Homo sapiens: one gene and its partners. The protein of the gene in region 4 interacts with the protein of the main gene of each other region in a pairwise test. Each region holds a gene or a part of one and is shown on either strand. Other genes may lie near its edges.

Region 1 (4,781 bases), on a different chromosome or scaffold from region 4:
TAGTAACACCATTATTGCTTATATAGTCCCCAAAGTGCCCACCTGCAGATAACACCCATCTGAGCATGTAAAACTTAGTTTAAAAAAAAATAATCATTTCTTGTATTGACTTTACCACTCTGCTTTTGTCCATTTCTTGCCATATCTGAAATTATCTTCTGTCAATTAATTTTATCCATATATCTTAGACTGCTAAAGCATGCTCTTCAGTTTGTTTGTCTTTAGAATTAAATTCCTCTTAAGTTGGGTCTGAAATTTTGCCGTAGCAAGCCAATCATGACTTGGGCTGGAGGGCAGCAAATGAGTGCCTTAGTATCACTTTTTTCCAAGACTGATTTAAATGAAGAGCTGAGGTTGAAGTAAAAAATTTTCAAAATAGGGTTAAGTTTGTAATTTGTGGAGTGTGTCAAGGTGAGTGCAAATGAGTTATTAACTGAATGGATCAGGGAATGTTAGGTGTGGAATGGAAGCCTAGGAAAATGGCATCCACAACTGATGGGTAGAATAACACTTACGGTTCTGAGGCATGTTTGAATGGAGGGTAAAACCTGATTGGGCAGCTTAAAAATGTTGTGATTTAAACTAACCATCCTTAGATCATTTTGTTAATTGAGAACTTAAGCGAGAACAAGGTTTGATCATATATTGTTTCCTGACTAGCAGAAACGGATTTTACCTTATTAATGTTTGCATTTGGCTGTGTCTTGTTTACGTCTTTGTCAGAAGTCATTTCAAATTTTTTTTTGTTTTTTTTTATTTGAGGTCAGCAATTCCCTTTTCTATTCTGTGACTTTGTATTAATTATATTTTCTCTCTGTAGACTGGATGTGATACTTATTAATAAAAACTAACTTCTCTTTTCCTCAAGTATAGCCATATACATATCCTATTAGTGTCTATTGAGGCAACTTATCCCAACTGAGAAATTAGGGACTGTTGGTTTGCAGCTCCATTAATGAGCAAATAGGAAAGAGCTAAAGTGTTGCATATCATCTTTTCTGTACATGTCTGCAGATATTCATAGGAACCTTAGAAATGCAAAGGTAGCCAATTGTACAACATCAGGCTTTAAAAAGTAGTACATAATATTTTGAAAATGGGTGAAAATAGCATTTTTGCCAGAAGAAAATGACAAATATTCTTCAAATTTTTCCACCAAATAGTTAACAGCTTTATTGGAGATATTCCTAGAGCAAGCATGTGCTTCCCAACATAGCTAAATCTATGAGGCAAAGAGAGAGATGGGAGCAGAGGCACAATACCAAAGATGCATTTTGAATATAATGGAATACAAATCAGGTGTTAATAAAATACTCAGCTTTAAGGTTCATCAGTGGCTAAGTTACAGTGGGTCAAAATTATCAAGGTTCTTCAGTGAAATTATATGAAATGCTTCTCAAGAATCTACCCCATAACTTATAGACATTCAGACATTTCCTTCTACAGCTTGCAAAAATGGAAGAGTCTCTTGAATATGCATGCATACTACTTGCCATTGTATGTTTTGATTTATTTCATGATATTCTAATTTCAATACTTTAAGAAATACTGCATACTGTTTTCATTGTCTGGCAAATACACTTTCAAATGAAAACATTTTTAATTTAGAAAGGAAGGGGCTTGGAATTGATAATAAAATTACAGATACACTAAATTCTTCTTATTCAAAGTCACTTCTGTGCCCTTCACATCTTCAGATTTAATATATTAGAAGTTAAGAAGGTTTTCAGTTAGATTGAAAAAAGACATATTTTTAAAGTGTGTCATTTAAACGTTGAGTTTTAGGGACTTTATGAATATTTCAGCTTGGCTTCTGAGAAGTTAGTGTAACATATCTTTTCATAAATATAATTGTTACATTGAAAAAGGATCTCTTATTCCAGGCATATGCAGAGAGAGAAGAAATCGAGACTTCAGTAAGGTATGTCAGGACAGAAGAGTTCAGTTACCAAATCCCGGGAAGTAACATCACCACACTTATCAGAGTGAATGTCATAGATTCAGTCGCCACTGCACATCCTGCTCCTGTTGTGTCTAAAGTACTGCCAGTGTCTGTTTGATGGATTTGCTTTACATCACTGAAGTTCATATCATCTGGCATCCCTGTAGAGGCAAATAAGAAAGCACAGGTGATGCATGACCACTTCACCATAATACGTCTAGAACAACTCTTAAACTCAAAGTGTGGACAGCATTGTTTTTGGGGACCATTCTCTATGTTCACCTAACTCTAACATAATTAATATGACACAGGTATTTCTGTCCTACTTAGATTGGAGAGTTCAAGCTCTTGTGTGAAAATTCTCAAATATTATAAGAGCAAAGTGAAAAGATTTTTAGCTTTTTAAAATTTTTGGAACATTTCTCTGCCACTGGTAAGTAAGTGAAGACATTTAATTAATTAATATATCCTAGGTATGGGATTAGTTCTTGTTTCAGAGATTTATCACCTTCAGTAACTGAAAACTTTTCCCATGAAAATAAAACCAGTTGAGGGGATATAATTGAATAAAATATTTTTTAAAAGTAGAATTTCTACAGATCATATTTTACATTAGAATAAAGTAGGCCTAAGATCTTTTTCAAATTTATTTTCATTTTTACTTGACAAATTTTATAGATATTGATGGGGTACAATGTGATATTTTGACAAGTATACCAGGAGGAATGATAAAGTCAAGCTGGCTAGCATATCCATCACCTCACATCCTTAGCATTTTTCTTGTGGAGGGAACATTTGAAATGTACCTTCTTGGCAATTTGGAAATATACAGTACATTATGAATGATAGTTACCATGCTGCGCAATGGTCTAAAACATTTCTTCCTCCTGTCTAACTAAACTTTGTACCCTCCAACCACCATCTCCCCTCCCTTCCCCACATCCATCCCCTGGCAGCCACCCTTTTACTTTCCCCTTTTATGACTTCAGCTATTTTAGATTCCACATGTAAGTGAGATCAGGAATTAGGACCTTTATGGAAATAGCAAATAGCAAAGAATAATAGCAACAAATGTTAAATTATATCTTCCATACACACATACAGCTGTGAGGATGGAGGTGTAGATATCTATCAACAGATCAAAGAAGTTGTTAATGGGTGGACTGGAGAATGAAGTTAGGGATAAAGTGTTTCATTTAAAAAAAAGCGGGCAAAGTCATACACCAAGATCCAGTCGCATTCTGGTTATTACTTCCGTACGTTATGAAACCTGACAAGTTGAGGAAAAAACTATCCCCTTAATTAACTGGGTTGAAAGAATTGCTTTTTAAAGATGTTTACCTTAGTACGATATACCTAGGGAATTACTGATTCATCACTTATTATCTAGTGCCATCAGTGTTCTGAGACTAAGTGACTGAATTATCTCATAGCATGCCACTATCAGTCACAATTAACAGATTTAAATTCATTGTTACTACAGCCACAAATATTGACATGGTAATTACAGAGAGATTGAAAGAATAAACTTCATATAAGGAAAAGTCAATATTTATGTAATTAGGCCAATATATATATATATAATTCAGAAGATAAGCTGTGCTGCATTCAGACATGAGAGCACTAAAACGAAGCAAAGCTCTGCTGATCTGACATATTGATTTTACAGTCTGAGCTCTTACATTATTATTCATTGTTTGGGTGCTTGTTTTGCCCTTCTGTGTCATTAGGCAAGATGAATAAACTAGTGATTCCCTTTTTTATTTTTTTTAAATAGGGACTAGAGTGGAGTGTGAATATTTTAGTCATGGCTTTATACCTCTTGTTAAGCTTAACAAGAAGCTATGAGGACTCCAGGCAATTAAAAATATTTTTTTTTTCTAAGATAACTACATAAATTTGAGCATTACAGGATTTACTTTTCATTTTTAAGCATTGTGAATTTGTGTTTGGATGGGATCCATGAATAAGGTTTTCTTATGCCATTCTGAGCTTATATTTTGTTCATTCATGAGCCAGACACTGATTTAGGTTTAGTGGATGCCATCATGGGTGAAAATATGTAAGTAGAAAGATGTTAAATCTTATGCCTGCAAGCCAGACAATGGCAGGAGAGCTTTTCTGCCTTCAATCAGATGCTATTTTACCATCTTACATTAAGGTGTTACTAATAAATAAATGTAACAGTTCTAAGGAATATGGCCTTTGAGTAATAAGTATGTGAAAAGAATTCAAGATCTTTTCAAGAGCCTGGCAGTCATGGCCGTAGTTATGGATCAAATCACAACCTTGTCATCTGTAAAAAGACATTAGCATGCCAAAAATTCTAGCTCCATGAATATTTGATGCAATGATTATTTTCATAAAGAAATTTAATTAACCAAGCTTATAAATTATACCAAGGCTTATAAAGACCTATAAAAGAAAAAATTAGTTTGGAGATTTATTGTATTAATACATTAAAGAAAAACAAAGTAATTTTTGAATACTCTTATATGCATAACAGCAACACACAAAGGTGTGAATAAATTCATAGTTTTGCTCTTAGTGGTTTATGGTCTGATGGGGAAAGAAAATTGCGTTATTAAAAAATGAAGGAAATATTATTACACAGAGACAGACCTGGTGATTGGTGCTATGAAATATGGTAGGCCGAGAGCAGTGGCTCACACCTGTAATCTCAGCACTTTGGGAGGCTGATGCAGGCAGATCACCTGAGGTCGGGAGTACAAGACCAGCCTGACCAACATGGAGAAACCCCGTCTCTACTAAAAATACAAAATTAGCCAGGTGTGGTGGTGCGTGCCTGTAATCCCAGCTACTTGGGAAGCCGAGGCAG
Region 2 (5,164 bases), on a different chromosome or scaffold from region 4:
GAGGGCAGGCGTGGCCAGCCACCAGGGAGGGGGGCGTTCCCACAGAGAACATGTATGAGCTGGACGCTAATGGATGGGAAGGAACTAGCCCAGAGGCTCTGGGAGAGGCCTCTGGAATTGTGTGTGTTGGCACAACACCTGGACAAAGACAGTCAGGTGCCAGGCTGGTCCACAGAGGAGTGAGCCTATATGGAAGGCCCCACACAGCCCTCTTCCCCAGCCCCTCACCTGCCTGCCCAATCCAGCCCTATTGGTCAACATGAACCATCCTGGCACCCAGGCTCCCCTCCCGACCCCCACCCTCTATTGCCATCAGCCATCAGCACGCACCTGACTTGTAGAGCAGGAAGTCCGAATACACAGAGAAAGCTCCCTCCACGGGGCCGTTTTTGTAGATCTCGGCCATGATGTCCTTCTCGCTATTGGAGACGCTGTAGGAATTGTATCCTGGAAAATGAACCGAGCTCGGGGTTGGGGAGGGCAGTGACCGTGCCTCGTGGCACGCCACGGTCAGCCAGTCACTGATTTCTGGTGGCCTCCAGGGGAAGACTGCATCTAAGGGGACTTGCCCTGCCAGGGGAGCTCAAGGAAGGCTCCCCTGAAGAACTAAGGACAGGGCTGGGGCTGGAAGCTCAGAAATGGGAGAACGGAGCAATGAGCACGAGGCCCCGGAAGAGGCCAGGATACCTCAAGACTCCAGGACACGCCACTCCCTTGTAAAAGGAGGGCTTTGGTCCCTTCCAGTTTGGAAGGGCTGAGGCTGAGTTCAGGGTGGAACAGGCAGAAAGTGGAGAGTGTGCTGCTTCTCCTGGCAAGAGGGCATCACTCCCCCTCCTCTATCCTAGAGTTCCGGGACCCCAAGGCTCCTCAGCCCTGACCTCTTCGCTGCAGCGTGAGGAGGGATGCAGCAGCTCCCCAGCCTCCACGTGCGCCGTGGCCAGGCCCCAGGCCCCTTACCGTAGTGCTTGTCCTGTTTGTAGGTCGGGCTGTAGCCAGGCTCACAGATCTTGCTACACTTGGGGGTATCTCCCTCCCCCGTGCATGGGGGCCGGGAGCCGTTGACGTGGTGCTCACAGGGAGGGATGGAGTACGGTCTGCACCCTGATGGGACGCGGGAGAAAGCGGAGTCAACCTACAGCCCCCACGGAGAAGACCTGGGGCAAGGCAAGCCTCGTGCCTGCAGCATGGACGCCAGGCAGGTCCTGCCAGAGGCCTGTGCACCTGGCTAGCACCTCTCAGCAGCCCCTCTGTCTCAACCCCCAGTTTATAAAGGCAAATAAAGCCATGATGGTTAATTGCTCAAACAATCCATCTGGCCAGAAAGTGGCCAAGGGGACACACTTACCTACATGGGATTCATAGAGGCCACCAGAAACCAGGCCTTTTCTTGTCCAGAAGTTCCAAGCTTCAGCAGGATAGCCACCATTACAGCTGAAAAGACAGCCTCTAATGAAAACCTCTGAGAGAAGCACCACCAGCTCTCCAGACCACTGTGTGCTACCCAAGTGCCCGAGGCCACTCGTGGACCCACCCCCAGCTGCAGCAAGTGGTGCGAGCAGACCTCCCAGACCCCAAACCCTCCAAGGGACGCTCCCTAGATAAGCACAGCTTGCAGGGAATAACCGCCAGCCCCACCCCTGCCCACAAAGATCCGGGAGAAGACAGGAGGCTCTCCTGTTCATGTCCATACCAGACCAGGCTACGAGTGCCCTTCCGGGTAGAACACTGATTCTCAACTGAGCAGACGCTAAACTTCCCTAAGGTACTTAAAAACACCACCAGTTCTCTGAAATGAGAATCGCCAGTGATTCCCATTTAACTAGTTAGGGGAGAAGCCCATGCATTTTTTTAAGCCCTCAGGCATTTCGGATCTGCAGCCGCCAGTGAACACCGCTACTGCGGAACCAAGGCGAGGCTGCAGGCAGCTGGAGCAGAAAGTTCTGTGCCACCACCTTGTTGTTAAGGTGGAGCCATCCCCGCTAACTACACATAAGGAAATGCCCCAAACTGGTTCCCCAAGCAGGAAAAAGGAACATGCGATGACACAAACCAGACCAGGGGCCAGACATTCCACCACATTTTCTGAAACTGACTGTTTTGCTGGGATGCCACCCCTCAGACAGCTCTGCCGGGCCAGCCTTGGTTCAGGCACCTCCCAGGAAGCAGCAGCCTTGCCAGGCCCTGCCTGCCAGACTCTCGGAGTCTCCCCGAAACACTTCTGACTCGCAGCAGTCCCAGGAAGTCCTCAAAGTCCCCTCCACTGAGAAGCTGGGGCCCAGGGTCTCTCAGCACTAAACCCGCTGTGGAAGCACAGCCTGACTCACCCGTCCCCACACATGCTGCCACAGCATGTGAGCAGGTCCTCCGCCGACACCTCCACGCTGACGTGCGCATTGGTGTGGATGCAGATCCGGTCAGAGATGGCTTCCACAGCCCCGAAGGCCTGCAGGAACGAGCCCCACCGGGTGAGGCTGCCATGTCCGGGCTGGGCCCTCTGCAGCAGTCCCCTCAAAGGGCCACAGGGGCACCTCAGACCTTGTAGGCAACTGATCTCTCAACACCAGGGGACGCTCCTGGGGCTCAAACTCAGCTTTTATTTTCTTTGGTAGAAATGGGGTCTTGCTACGTTGGCCAGACTGGTCTTGAACTCCCGGGTTCAAGTGATTTGCCCACCTTGGCCTCCCAAAGTGCTGGGATTAGAGGCGTGATGAGCCACTTGCCCCACTCTCCTGCCTCAACGATTTGCCCAACTCAGCTTTTAAAGCAAGAGAAGCACCCCCGTGAACCTCTGCCTGGAAACTGGGTTCATTTCTGAAATCTGCAAAATGTGTAGTATTAGTTTGTATGTGTGTGTGTGGTTTTTTTTTTTTTTCCTGGAGGCGGAGTTTCACTTTTGTTGCCCAGGCTGGAATGCAGTGGCGCAATCTCAGCTCACTGCAACCTACGCCTCCTGGGTTCAAGCAATTCTCCTGCCTCAGCCTCTATAGTAGCTGGGATTATAGGTGCCTGCCACCAGGCCCAGCTAAGTTTTGTCTTTTTAGTAGAGACAGGGTTTCACCATGTTGGCCAGGTTGGTCTCAAACTCCTGACCTCAGGTGATCCGCCTGCCTCAGCCTCCCAAAGTGTTGAGATTACAGGCGTGAGCTACCGTACCTGGCTGTGTTTTTTTCTTAACAAAAAACACAGCTCACCCAGAAAATAAATACTGTTGTGATCCACTTGTATGAGGTCCCTAGGAGTCAAATTCATAGAGACAGAAAGTAGAGTGGGGCTTACCAGGGGCTACAATATTGGTGTTAATGGGGACAGAGTTTCTGTCTTGCGAGCTGAAAAAGAGTTCGGGGGACAGATGGTGGTGGTGGCTGAGCAACACTGTGAATGTACTTAATGCTACAGAACTGTACACTTGAAAATAGTTGCTGGGCACGGTGGCTCACGCCTGTAATCCCAGCATTTTGCGAGGCCGAGGAAGGCAGATCAACAGGTGAGGCGTTTGAGACCAGGCTGTCCAACATGGCAAAACCCCATCTCTACTAAAAATACAAAAATTAGCTGGGCGTGGTGGCACATGCCTGTAGTCTTAGCTACTGGGGAGACTGAGGCAGGAGAATTGCTTGAACCCAGGAGGCAGAGGTTGCAGTGAGCCAATATCCCACCACTGCACTCCAGCCTGGGTGACAGAGCAAGACTCCATCTCCAAAAAAAAAAAAAAAAAAAAAAGAAAGAAAAAGAAAACAAAAGAAGATTGCTAAGATTATTACATTTCTGTTACGTGTATTTTACCACAATTAAATGACAAAATTAAGACAGCTCACTGACACTAAAGGGATGCTTTCTTGAAGCAGAGTAGCAGTGAGAGCTCCTGGTATTTGCGGACGGGCCAGCATGTCAGGGAAAGGGAGCTGCTTCGCCACCTGTACACGTGGACTTGCAATCTGCTGGATGCTCTGCCCGCCACTCCACCTAATCCTCGCCATCATTCATGGCCAGAGGGATTGTGATTTTTGTACTGATGGAAACTGGGACTCAGAAAGTTTCTATAACTTGCCTTGTCAGAGTTGTCCCCACCCCGAATCCCCCAAGACTCTCCAGTGTTGCTCCCACTTTCTCTCCAGCGCTTCCCCGCCAGCCAGCAGGGCCTTACCCAGCAGGAGCCACAGGAGCCCTGGTCTCTGATCTCTTTGATGGTGGGACACTGTGGCCATTGTTCCCGTGCATCGAAGCTTGCAGGCAGCTTCAGGTCCTCGGTAAACATAACTCTGGATAAAGGAAGGTCTTCATTACAAGCTCTGATCCCACAACTCCCTCCCCAATCCCTGCAAAGGCCACTTTGGCTGGGCCACACTCCCCTAACAAGGAAATGAGCACAAGACATGCCGAAGAAGGCTGCAGACAGGTGTCCTTGGTAATTTCATAAAACAAAAGGAAATTCTGTTGCTCAATGCACCTTTTGATTTTTTTTTTGGGTGGGACGGGAGGGTGGGAGTGGACAGAATTTCACTGTGTCATCCAGGCTGGAGTGCAGTGGCGAGATCTCTGCCCACTGCAACCTCTGCCTCCTGAGTTCAATCGATTCTCGTGCCTCAGCCTCCTGAGTAGCTGGGATTACAGGCATGCACCACCACACCCGGCTAATTTTTGTATTTTTAGTAAAGACAGGGTTTCACCATGTTGGCCAGGCTGGTCTTAAACTCCTGGCTTCAAATGATCTGCCTGCCTTGGCCTCCCAAAGTGCTGGGATTACAGGCATGATCCACCACACCTGGCCTGACTTGCGATATTGTACGCTTCTTTCTAGGCTTATGTAATGGATTTTTTAAGATGAATTTATCCACAAATTATAAACTCATTTTTAAATAAGTTTATTCAGTCCAGATAGTGTTTCTTGCCCTGCTCTCCTGCCTCAACCTCTGCCCAGGATCCTCTCATCATTTCTCATATCATCCCCATTGTGCAGAAGGCAGTGTCGTGCAACTTAACTACCCCATCCTCACGTGGGAAGTGGCATCATCTCAGCTCACCGCAACCTCTGCCTCCCGGGTTCATGCGATTCTCTAGCCTCAGCCTCCCGAGTAGCTGGGATTACAGGCGCCCGCCACCACGCCTGGCAAAGTTTTTTATTTTTAGTAGAGACGGGGTTTCATCATGTTGGTCAGACTGGTCT
Region 3 (5,164 bases), on a different chromosome or scaffold from region 4:
AGGTCTGTCTGACTTCACTGCCTTGCTCTTGACTATGTTATAATTTATATATGACTTAGATATTCCTCATCTGTAAAAGGAAAGAGGGCACAAAGTCCTACAGGAACTCAAGGGAGACAGATTAAAGCAGGCTGGGGAGATAAGAAAGAAGTTCTAAGGTCACAGCTGAAGAAAGGAGTTAAAGAAGGGCAACGACACCATTTTAGAATGAAGGGAAGTAGAGGCAAATGTGTAACAATGCAGGGCACTGGAAAAGGGGACAGTCCATTTTACCATTTCCGGGTGGCTTGCCCCCTCCCAGGTATATAGCCACTGACCAACTGTTCAAGAGAAATGTATCAAGCGGCTCTATGTGCCAGGCGCTGTGCTGGGCTCTAGGGATACAACCAAGAACAAGACAGACATGGAGTTGCTCTAAGAGAGTTTACTTTTACTATTTAGTGAGGATACAGACAAAAAAGTAAACCAATAAGTAAAAATAAAATAAGGCCAGGTGTGGTAGCTCACACCAGCAATCATAGCACTGTGGGAGGCCGAGGTGGGAGGATCACTTGAGCCCAGGAGTTTGAGACCTGCCTGGGCAACACAGAGAAACCCCATCTCTACAAAAAAAATAGAAAAATTAGCCAAGCATGGTGGAGCGTGTCTGTAGTCCCAGGTATTCAGGAGGCTGAGGTGGGAGAATCGCCTGAGCCCAGGAAGTCAAGGCTGCAGTGAGCCATGATCACGCCACTGCACTCCAACCTCGGCAATAGAATGGAGTGAGACCCTGTCTCAGAAAATAAATTAATTAGCTCCCTCTCCCTCTCCCCCTCCCCCTCCCCACGGTCTCCCTCTCCCTCTCCCCACGGTCTCCCTCTCCCTCTCTTTCCACGGTCTCCCTCTCCCTCTCTTTCCACGGTCTCTCTCTGATGCCGAGCCGAAGCTGGACTGTACTGCTGCCATCTCGGCTCACTGCAATCTCCCTGCCTGATTCTCCTGCCTCAGCCTGCCGAGTGCCTGCGATTGCAGGCGCGTGCCGCCACGCCTGACTGGTTTTCGTATTTTTTTGGTGGAGACGGGGTTTCGCTGTGTTGGCCGGGCCGGTCTCCAGCTCCTAACCGCGAGTGATCCGCCAGCCTCGGCCTCCCGAGGTGCCGGGATTGCAGACGGAGTCTCGTTCACTCAGTGCTCAATGGTGCCCAGGCTGGAGTGCAGTGGCGTGATCTCGGCTTGCTACAACCTCCACCTCCCAGCCGCCTGCCTTGGCCTCCCAAAGTGCCGAGATTGCAGCCTCTGCCTGGCCGCCATCCCGTCTGGGAAGTGAGGAGCGTCTCTGCCTGGCCGCCCATCGTCTGGGATGTGAGGAGCCCCTCTGCCTGGCTGCCCAGTCTGGAAAGTGAGGAGCGTCTCTGCCCGGCCGCCATCCCATCTAGGAAGTGAGGAGCGTCTCTGCCCGGCCGCCCATCGTCTGAGATGTGAGGAGCGCCTCTGCCCGGCCGCGACCCCGTCTGGGAGGTGAAGAGCGTCTCTGCCCAGCCGCCCCGTCTGAGAAGTGAGGAGACCCTCTGCCTGGCAACCACCCCGTCTGAGAACTGAGGAGCCCCTCTGCCCGGCAGCCGCCCCGTCTGAGAAGTGAGGAGCCTCTCCGCCCGGCAACCACCCCGTCTGGGAAGTGAGGAGCCCCTCTGCCCGGCCAGCCGCCCCGTCCGGGAGGTGAGGGGCGCCTCTGCCCGGCCGCCCCTACTGGGAAGTGAGGAGCCCCTCTGCCCAGCCAGCCGCCCCGTCCAGGAGGGAGGTGGGGGGGTCAGCCCCCTGCCCGGCCAGCCGCCCCGTCCGGGAGGGAGGTGGGGGGGTCAGCCCCCCGCCCAGCCAGCCGCCCCGTCCGGGAGGGAGGTGGGGGGGGGGTCAGCCCCCCGCCCGGCCAGCCGCCCCGTCCGGGAGGTGAGGGGTGCCTCTGCCCGGCCACCCCTACTGGGAAGTGAGGAGCCCCTCTGCCTGGCCACCACCCCGTCTGGGAGGTGTACCCAACAGCTCATTGAGAACGGGCCAGGATGACAATGGCGGTTTTGTGGAATAGAAAGGGGGGAAAGGTGGGGAAAAGATTGAGAAATCGGATGGTTGCCGTGTCTGTGTAGAAAGAAGTAGACATGGGAGACTTTTCATTTTGTTCTGTACTAAGAAAAATTCTTCTGCCTTGGGATCCTGTTGATCTGTGACCTTACCCCCAACCCTGTGCTCTCTGAAACATGTGCTGTGTCCACTCAGGGTTAAATGGATTAAGGGCGGTGCAAGATGTGCTTTGTTAAACAGATGCTTGAAGGCAGCATGCTCATTAAGAGTCATCACCACTCCCTAATCTCAAGTACCCAGGGACACAAACACTGCAGAGGGCCGCAGGGTCCTCTGCCTAGGAAAACCAGAGACCTTTGTTCACTTGTTAATCTGCTGACCTTCCCTCCACTATTGTCATATGACCCTGCCAAATCCCCCTCTGCGAGAAACACCCAAGAATGATCAATAAAAAAAAAAATAAATAAATAAAAATTAATTAATTAATAAAAATAACTACAGGTGGCAATTAGAGTTACAGAGGATATAATTGTTAAAACAAGCATAACGTCTGTCTACTTTAGACAGGATGGTCAGAGAAGGTGCTTCTGAAGAGGTAACTGAAGCTGATCTCCTTAGGATAAGAAAGAGTCCGACATGGGAAGAGCTGGGGACAGAGAATCTCAAGTAGAGGAAAGAGTAACGTGAATGCCCAGAGGCAGTAGAGACCCTGGACACCTGAGGTGGTGAGAAAAAGCTTGTGGGCCTAGAGGTAGTACAAAGGAGGGCAAAGAGGGAGGAAGGTGAGGGCGGAGTAAGCAAATGTTCCCAGTGGAGTTTGTACACAGACAACTGCCCTGGGCAGACAAAGGAGGTTGGACCTCTGCTGGAGGGAAAGAGCTAGGTCTGTAGAAGGAAACACTATAGGATGATGGGATGGGGGAGCGACAGGCTCCACTAGATGCCCCAGACTCTTACCGGATAAGCCCATCCTCAGCAGCACTCCAGAATGTGTTGGGCCACATGGGCGCTGTGGCGATGCGCTTCACCCGGTTTGTGTGGTCTCCAAACATGTGGATGGTCTCCTTTACTGTCAGGTCGTGCACATGCACCTTAGAGTCGGCTGCCCCCGTGATCAAGATGCGGTCCCCAGCGTGAGGCAGGAACTATATAGGAGAAATGGAGGAAGGGGTGGGTGGTAAGAGTAGAAATGGCCACGGAAGGAGGCTAGCCTGGATGTCTGCACCCTTTTCTCTCTCCATGTCAGATAAGAGAATGAGCCCATGCAGGCTGGGCGCGGTGGCTCATGCCTGTAATCCCAGCTGCTCAGCAGGCTGAGGCAGGAAAATCCCTTGAACCCAGGAGGCAGAGGCTGCAGGAAGCCAGAGGCTGCAGTGAGCCGAGATTGTGCCACTGCACTCCAGCCTGGGCAACAGAGCGAGACTGTCTCAAAAACAACAACAACAACAAAAAACAAAACAAACCCTTGAGGTTCAGCAGTAATATACAGCAAGATTGTGTTCAAGCCCAAGTCTGTCTGACTCCCACATGCCCTACTTGCCTCATTATGACTACTTAGTAACCTAGAGATTAAGTAATAAATTAGTCCTGAAGTGAAAAAGACTTTGAGTGTTTAAGGGAATGGGTGTGTGTGGGTTTTTTTTGTTTTTTTTTTTTGAGACAGCGTCTCGCTCTGTCACCCAGGCTGGAGTGCAGTGGTGCAATCTCGGCTCACTGCAACTTCCACCTCCCGGGTTCAAGCGATTCTCCTGTGTCAGCCTCCTGAGTAGCTGGGATTACAGGTGTGCACCACCACGCCCAGCTAATTTTTGTATTTTTAGTAGAGACAGGGTTTCACCATGTTGGCCAGGCTGGTCTCGAACTCCTGACCTCAGGTGATCCACCTGCCTTGGCCTCCCAAAGTGCTGGGATTGTAGGCATGAGCCAGAATGCCCTGTTGGGAGTGAGTGTTTTAAATTAGTTTGACTGCTTCTGAAAAACAATCTGGTAATAGTAACAAAGATTAAAAACAATTTCTAGTTTTTGACTCAAAACTTCCACTTCCAAGAAATAATCCAGGCCAGGCGTGGTGGCTCATGCCTATAATCCCAGCACTTTGGGAGGCTGAGGCGGGCAGATCACAAGGTCAGGAGATCCAGACCATCCTGGCTAACACGGTGAAACCCCGTCTCTACTAAAAATATAAAAAAATTAGCCGGGCGTGCGCCTGTAGTCCCAGCTACTCGGGAGGCTGAGGCAGGAGGATGGTGTGAACCCAGGAGGCAGAGCTTGCAGTGAGCTGAGATCACGCCACTGCACTCCAGCCTGGGCAACAGAGCGAGACTCCATCTCAAAAAAAAAAAAAAAAAAAAGGAAATAATCCAAAAAGAAAAAAGGGACCTGGTCAGAAATGCTTGGATGCCTCTTATAATAGCAAATATTGGAAACAGCTCAAATGTTGGACAATAGGGAAGGGCTGAGCATCAAGAGGATACATCTCTATGCAGTATTTATTAAAAAAAAAAACAAAAAAAACCGGCCAGGTGCCGTGGCTCACACCTGTAATCCCAACACTTTGGGGGGCCGAGGTAGGCGGATTACCTGAGGTCAGGAGTTTGAGACCACCCTGGCCAACATGGTGAAACCCCGTCTTTACTACAAAAAAAATTAGCCGGATGTGGTGGTGTGCACCTGTAATCCCAGCTGCTCGGAAGGTTGAAGCAGGAGAATCACTTGAAGCCGGGAGGTGGAGGTTGCAGTGAGCTGAGATGGCATCACTGCACTCCAGCATGGGTGACAGAGCAAACAAGACTCCATCTCAAAAAAAAAAAAAAAAAAAAAAACCACCATCCTGATAAAGGCAAGAACAAAATACTCCAGATGACATCTGATAAGAAAAAAACAGCTGCAACCATAGCTTCAAATAATGAAAAAAGAAAGTATGCAGTTCTGGGCTGGGCGCTGTGGCTCGCACCTGTAATCCCAGCACTTTGGGAGGCGGAGGCAGGTGGATCACCTGAGGTCGGGAATTCAAGATCAGCCTTACCAACATGGAGAAACCCTGTCTCTACTAAAAATACAAAAAATTAGCCGGGTGTGGTGGTGTATGCCTGTAGTCCCAGCTACTCGGGAG
Region 4 (5,164 bases):
CAAAAGTTAAAACAATCAGGACTGGGTTGAGACGAGTTGGCAATACCAATCAAATATCTAAGCTGGTAACTGGAAACATGCCAGAAACAAGAATCTCCAGCAGCAATCACAGATGCCGTCCGAGACAAAAGAACTGGGCTTCAAAATGATACCCTTCTTCCCACCTTGGCTGACCCCCACCGTACACGATGGCGCTCTTAAGACACTCATGACCGCAATCGGCTTGCAAGTGTTGGTAATATTTGTTCATGTATTAACTGTGTTTTACTGGGCTTTTGCAAACAGCAGTTTTCCCAACTAGAGAGAGGCCTAACTGGCTTGAGGTCAGTGACAGCTAATTTGTTTAGGACTGAATTAAGCAAGGGTGTGTTTAAGAGGTGGAATTTTGTGGTGGTCTTGTCTTCCTCAGGATCTCAGAACATACACAATTTTTCTAGATTCTATATCACGAACCCAATTAAAACATGAGAACTCAGTTGAGGATGCAAAGAGGCTTACCTGGTGACCAGTTCCTGAGGAGGAAGAGGCTGGCTTTCTTTCCCCTAAGCCTTCTAGTGCTATTGTCTTGACTCGCCTTCCTGTGCCAGTCTGAATATGGTTACCCAAACCAATCTAGGCACGTCTTCCCTTTCAGTGTTGCTAAGAGCCAAAAAGTCCACCGTCCATCCCAACAGTAACGATGTGCCCAATTACTTCTATAATCTCACGTTCTCAAATGAAATAATCTCGAATCTAGGTGAATCTTGGTGGATATAACAGAATGATTTAAAAAAAAATAGAAACTCTTTGGTATGTGGCACATTTAACATTCTGTGAAAATTCGGGTGTTTCTCATCAACTGGTCCAGCCATCTCTAGTAAAAGCAGCAGCAAAGTAAGAGAACTGAGATGAACCAAAAACTGTCTGCCAAAAACATATATAAAATGCAGTTAATTGAGCATTTGGGGGCAGAAAGGGTGAAGCCTTCTCTGGGCTTTTGCCCTTTGTTGCTAGTTGAGGTCAGTGCGGGATAGGCAAGATGTTGGGAGGGTCAACACAAAGTAGTTGTGTGGAGATCTCCCTCCCAGAAGGATGCCTCACAGGGAAGGAACTTCCCATTAAAGCTATGTGGTCCTGAAGAGGAGACACTCCAGTTAGTCTGAGCAGCTTTTCTGCAAGCACAGGACTGGTTAATTCTGGCCACTCCCTGTCTGCCTAGTAGTAGAGAGGAGTGGAGGGTCCATTTTCTGGGGTTAAGAACTTTGTTGACTCCTGCAACTGTAAGGCAGCTTGAAATGGAACTGCACCTACCAGGTGGGAACAGACCACACGTCAGATATAACTGGCACCTGCCTTAAACGTGTGGCCAGTTTGCTTTAAAATTAGGGCACATGCTACCAAGCATCTTGCTGAATATGGCACTGCAGTGCTCATACAGGGGTATTCATGGTAAAGGTGGAAGTGGAGCCTTTGTCTTAACAGGGAACCAACTGAATTGGTTAAAATTTTGATCAGATTAGCAGCAATATGCAGTAGTAGACTCAACCAAGAACCACAGACTTAGTTAGACATAATCTTGGATATATTATCCAAGGCTTATTATACAGAGTATGTTCAGAGGCCTGGCAGCATCAGCATCACCTGGCAGCTTGTCAGAAACACTCACTCTTAGGTCCCACCCCAGAACTTCTTAATCAGAAATATGCATTTTCCCTTAAATCCCCAGGTGCTACTTCTGCACACACAAGGATGACAAACACTGACACATACCACGGACTACCTCAACTAAAGACCAGTGTCAGTAATGGCTCAGGGAGGAGAGAAACAGCCCACTACTAGCTACACCTACTAGTTTCATAGTTCCAAGTTATATGTACCAATCTTCACTGCCAGTAGATCATGTGTGGTGCACAGAGGCAGAAGACAAAGGTTGCCCTTCACAGACCTGAGGTTTAAGCTTCAGCTGAAGCTTCGGAGTAAAAGTATCAAATAATTTTATTATGAAAGATAAGCCATTTATTGACCATTCACTTTTCTAAAAAAACACAAATGTGAGAATAAAATAAACATACCTAAGACTCACTGGCCCCTCCAGGACAGGAAGCAGCCCTGGACAGAGAGCCTGCAAACGAGTTTCCTTATGCCTAATGTCTGAACTTCTCATACATTCTAGGATTTCATGTTTCGTTACAAAGGAAAGGAAACTGGCTAGAAGATTCATGTACAAGAAGGTCACAACTTTAAAGCTATCTGACGCTAATGACTTGTACAATCTGGTTTGCAAACTCTGAGAGACAGTATCAAATAAGCACTGTCAAAGACTACTCCCAGCTAATCTTTACTGTCATTTTTCTTTGAAATTGTCTTTGGGACTGGCTATGTTCTCACTGTAGCTTCCGTTTATCCCACAGCACAAACCCTAAAGTCCATGTGCAGTCTCCATGTTCAAGTATAAAAGTCTGTTTCAGGACAACCCTGGGTTGCTGTAGTGTTTCTCTCTCTGTAGTGTCTACTTGGTGTCATGCCCTTGGACAGGCTGGCCAAATGGCAGCACAATGCAGGGGGTGACACGGTCAACTCTCCCACTGCCGAACTTGCTCCCCTTTCAATCTGGTCACTGCCCATGGTCAAGGTTGAAATCTTGAGATCAGTGACGACCTTGGCCTATCTTCAGTCTGAAGTTGCACTCTTATGTAACCGAATCCATTTCTTCACCAAAAATTAGCTTTCAAAAGGTGTCTGGCGTATTCTAAAAAGGAAAGATAATCATATCAAAATGTTATTTATTGATAACAGACTATATTCACTTTTATGTTCCTAAAGGAATTTACAATTAAAAAGAAAGACTTAAAATGAATGTTTTACACTCCATATTGGACTCAAGGGCTTCTCTCAATAGAGGAACAAAAAGACAGTCCTGATGCTCTTGCGTTGCTCATCACTGACACTCAAAACGCCCTAGTCAATTCACCTCACTTACTGATTATAACAGGCATCTCAGAGAATCTTAAAAAGAACACCAAATCAGAATGAAGGGATAAAACATATCCCAGCAGTCACCAACAACGGCGAAAAGTCCACTGCTAACTTCATCGCTGCTCCTACTAATGTCTCCCAAAACCTGCAAAAAGCATTCTTTTGTACATCTACAGCTGTTTAAAATTACATTTAATTCCAAATTTAATTTAAAAAGGGGGAGTGTTCCTAACAGAAGAATCCCATGGTAATTGATAGTGGTAAACAAACTCCTTCTAAATTCATGGAAATCGAGTCGCACTCAAAGCAGACTCTGAATCCCATTTAGGATATCACTTCAGAAGGCACTGCTTGATTTTAAATAAAATTGCAAGCCTAAGTTAACTCATGTCCAGGAGAGACTCATTTAAACATTTCAGCAAAATAAGACTTTCATTTGAATCCCCTTTATGCACACCAATCATCCCAGCTGATTTCTAATGAAGCATCTATCCATAGCTTACATGTTTAGCGCTGGTGGAACAGAAAATCAGTCACTGACACAGGAAACTGCTACTAATTAGTTCTCAGTAAAAAGTGACTTATAACAGTAGGTGAAGTCCATCTGCAGTAAATACTTCCTGAATGATCCTCAATTACGGCCTACCCCATTCCTATCCATTTTACATATCTACAAGCCAGAGATGCATACTCCTGGACAGAAGATAGGATACTGGACCTTAGGAAGTGTCCTGAGATGGAGCTGGAGGGTCCTGGCCTTCGGGCTCTGGAGGGGGTGCTGGCACAGCTGCTTTTTTCTGGGCCGCCAGGAACTCATGAATTGCTCGTTCTATTTGTGGCCTGAAGATGTGGTTAAGTTTTGGATCCACCACCTGAGAAATAATCCTGTCTACTCCAGCTTCCAACATCCCTGACCTTGTGGAGACAAACAGATCATTCTGTTATTTAGTTCCTTCGGGATTCATCTTTAGCCCCAATAAGTGTCACGTGCGAGCCCAATAAATGTCCACCTTCAAAGCTACAGCCCTTCTAGGGAGTTTAGAGGTCAATCCACTTACCATATACAGCTCACGCTATTTTCACTTTTGAGGGGTAATTCTCAACCAGCAGCTGTTATTCCTACTGCACAATCTCACCCACAATCACCCAACCTTGTACAAAAGAATCAAAAACAAAACTAAGTGAGTTGCTCCAAAACAACAAACAAATGACAGCATGGTGAGAAAGAGTTTGACACGTGTGGCACTGAAAAGCTTCCTCGTACTGTCAAAGCCAGTAAGCCCCGAATTGGACTCCATTTCCTTCAACATTTATTCTCCTAATAGCCTAAGCAGAAGTAGCTCCAGCAGCAACCTGTTTACTAATCCTTAAAATTTAAACAAGGCCGATCAGTCAGGGCTGGGAGTATTTACATCACCAGCAATTCACCATGGCCTTCAGCTGTAGTTGCTACCTGTAACACATAATAAGCAACTTGGAAGCAAACAAGAAATAGACAAACAAATTAGTTCCAAGCTCCTAGAGGGCTAAATTACATCCCCGATCCTTTCTGAAGTAGAGCAAAAATCAGGGCATATCAATGTCTATATTCAAACACTTGGGACAGGGTACTGGAAATGATGGTGAGAGGAAACAAATCATATTTGGACAGTCTGGAAAATAGCCCGTAAGGTTCAAAGTGAAGTGTTCTTCTCAAAGGACTGAAATATTCCAATACCATCACAAGCATGTGGGCAGGTTTTACTTATTTTCCCGTAGACTTGAGACTTCAGAGGCCATTTAAGCCTTCGGGTAAAAATAGGCTGGGCAGCAAGTGGGCAAATGGTCTGTCAGGGTACAGCAAAGGAAAGACATGAGTAAATGTACATCATGACAAAGAAGATAAGAAACAGGCTGTGAACTGGGAAAGATGATTAGTGTGTAAAGTGCTCCCTGGATTCAATGGTAACTAACAGCTTATCGACAGGAAGCCTAGATGTAAATACACCACCACTAGAGCACTGAAGGGCACATTTTCAGGTAGACCAGGCATTAGACAGTATCGGCCCTTAGTGATGAGCATCGTTAAATACAGCAAAGTTAGCATCCGGCTATGGGATGCTAACAAAGGAAAGCCACCTCTCCTCAGTCACAAGCCAATACCTTTCCAACTTTACCAAACCACTTCCTGAGTCGGATTCACAGGGTCCTTTACCAGATGTAAAAGCTT

Evidence for each region.
Region 1: the proteins of BOD1 (region 4) and GPC5 interact in binary tests that used the Homo sapiens proteins (3 or more experiments, as listed by UniProt).
Region 2: the proteins of BOD1 (region 4) and CTSB interact in binary tests that used the Homo sapiens proteins (3 or more experiments, as listed by UniProt).
Region 3: the proteins of BOD1 (region 4) and WDTC1 interact in binary tests that used the Homo sapiens proteins (3 or more experiments, as listed by UniProt).

Annotation. Positions count from the first base shown.
Region 1 is NC_000013.11:92,863,604-92,868,384, reverse strand, and holds the end of GPC5 (glypican-5 precursor), read right to left. Parts: intron 2,104-4,781; coding exon 1,946-2,103; 3' UTR 1,148-1,945; downstream 1-1,147. UniProt on the Homo sapiens protein: Cell surface proteoglycan that bears heparan sulfate.
Region 2 is NC_000008.11:11,846,722-11,851,885, forward strand, and holds part of CTSB (cathepsin B isoform 1 preproprotein), read right to left. Parts: intron 4,260-5,164; coding exon 4,145-4,259; intron 2,444-4,144; coding exon 2,325-2,443; intron 1,432-2,324; coding exon 1,346-1,431; intron 1,102-1,345; coding exon 958-1,101; intron 448-957; coding exon 331-447; intron 1-330. UniProt on the Homo sapiens protein: Thiol protease which is believed to participate in intracellular degradation and turnover of proteins. Cleaves matrix extracellular phosphoglycoprotein MEPE. Involved in the solubilization of cross-linked TG/thyroglobulin in the thyroid follicle lumen.
Region 3 is NC_000001.11:27,285,707-27,290,870, reverse strand, and holds part of WDTC1 (WD and tetratricopeptide repeats protein 1), read right to left. Parts: intron 3,198-5,164; coding exon 3,010-3,197; intron 1-3,009. UniProt on the Homo sapiens protein: May function as a substrate receptor for CUL4-DDB1 E3 ubiquitin-protein ligase complex.
Region 4 is NC_000005.10:173,605,565-173,610,728, forward strand, and holds the end of BOD1 (biorientation of chromosomes in cell division protein 1), read right to left. Parts: intron 4,107-5,164; exon of another isoform or gene 4,014-4,106; intron 3,871-4,013; coding exon 3,675-3,870; 3' UTR 3,674-3,674; intron 2,729-3,673; coding exon of another isoform or gene 2,701-2,728; 3' UTR 1,581-2,700; downstream 1-1,580. UniProt on the Homo sapiens protein: Required for proper chromosome biorientation through the detection or correction of syntelic attachments in mitotic spindles.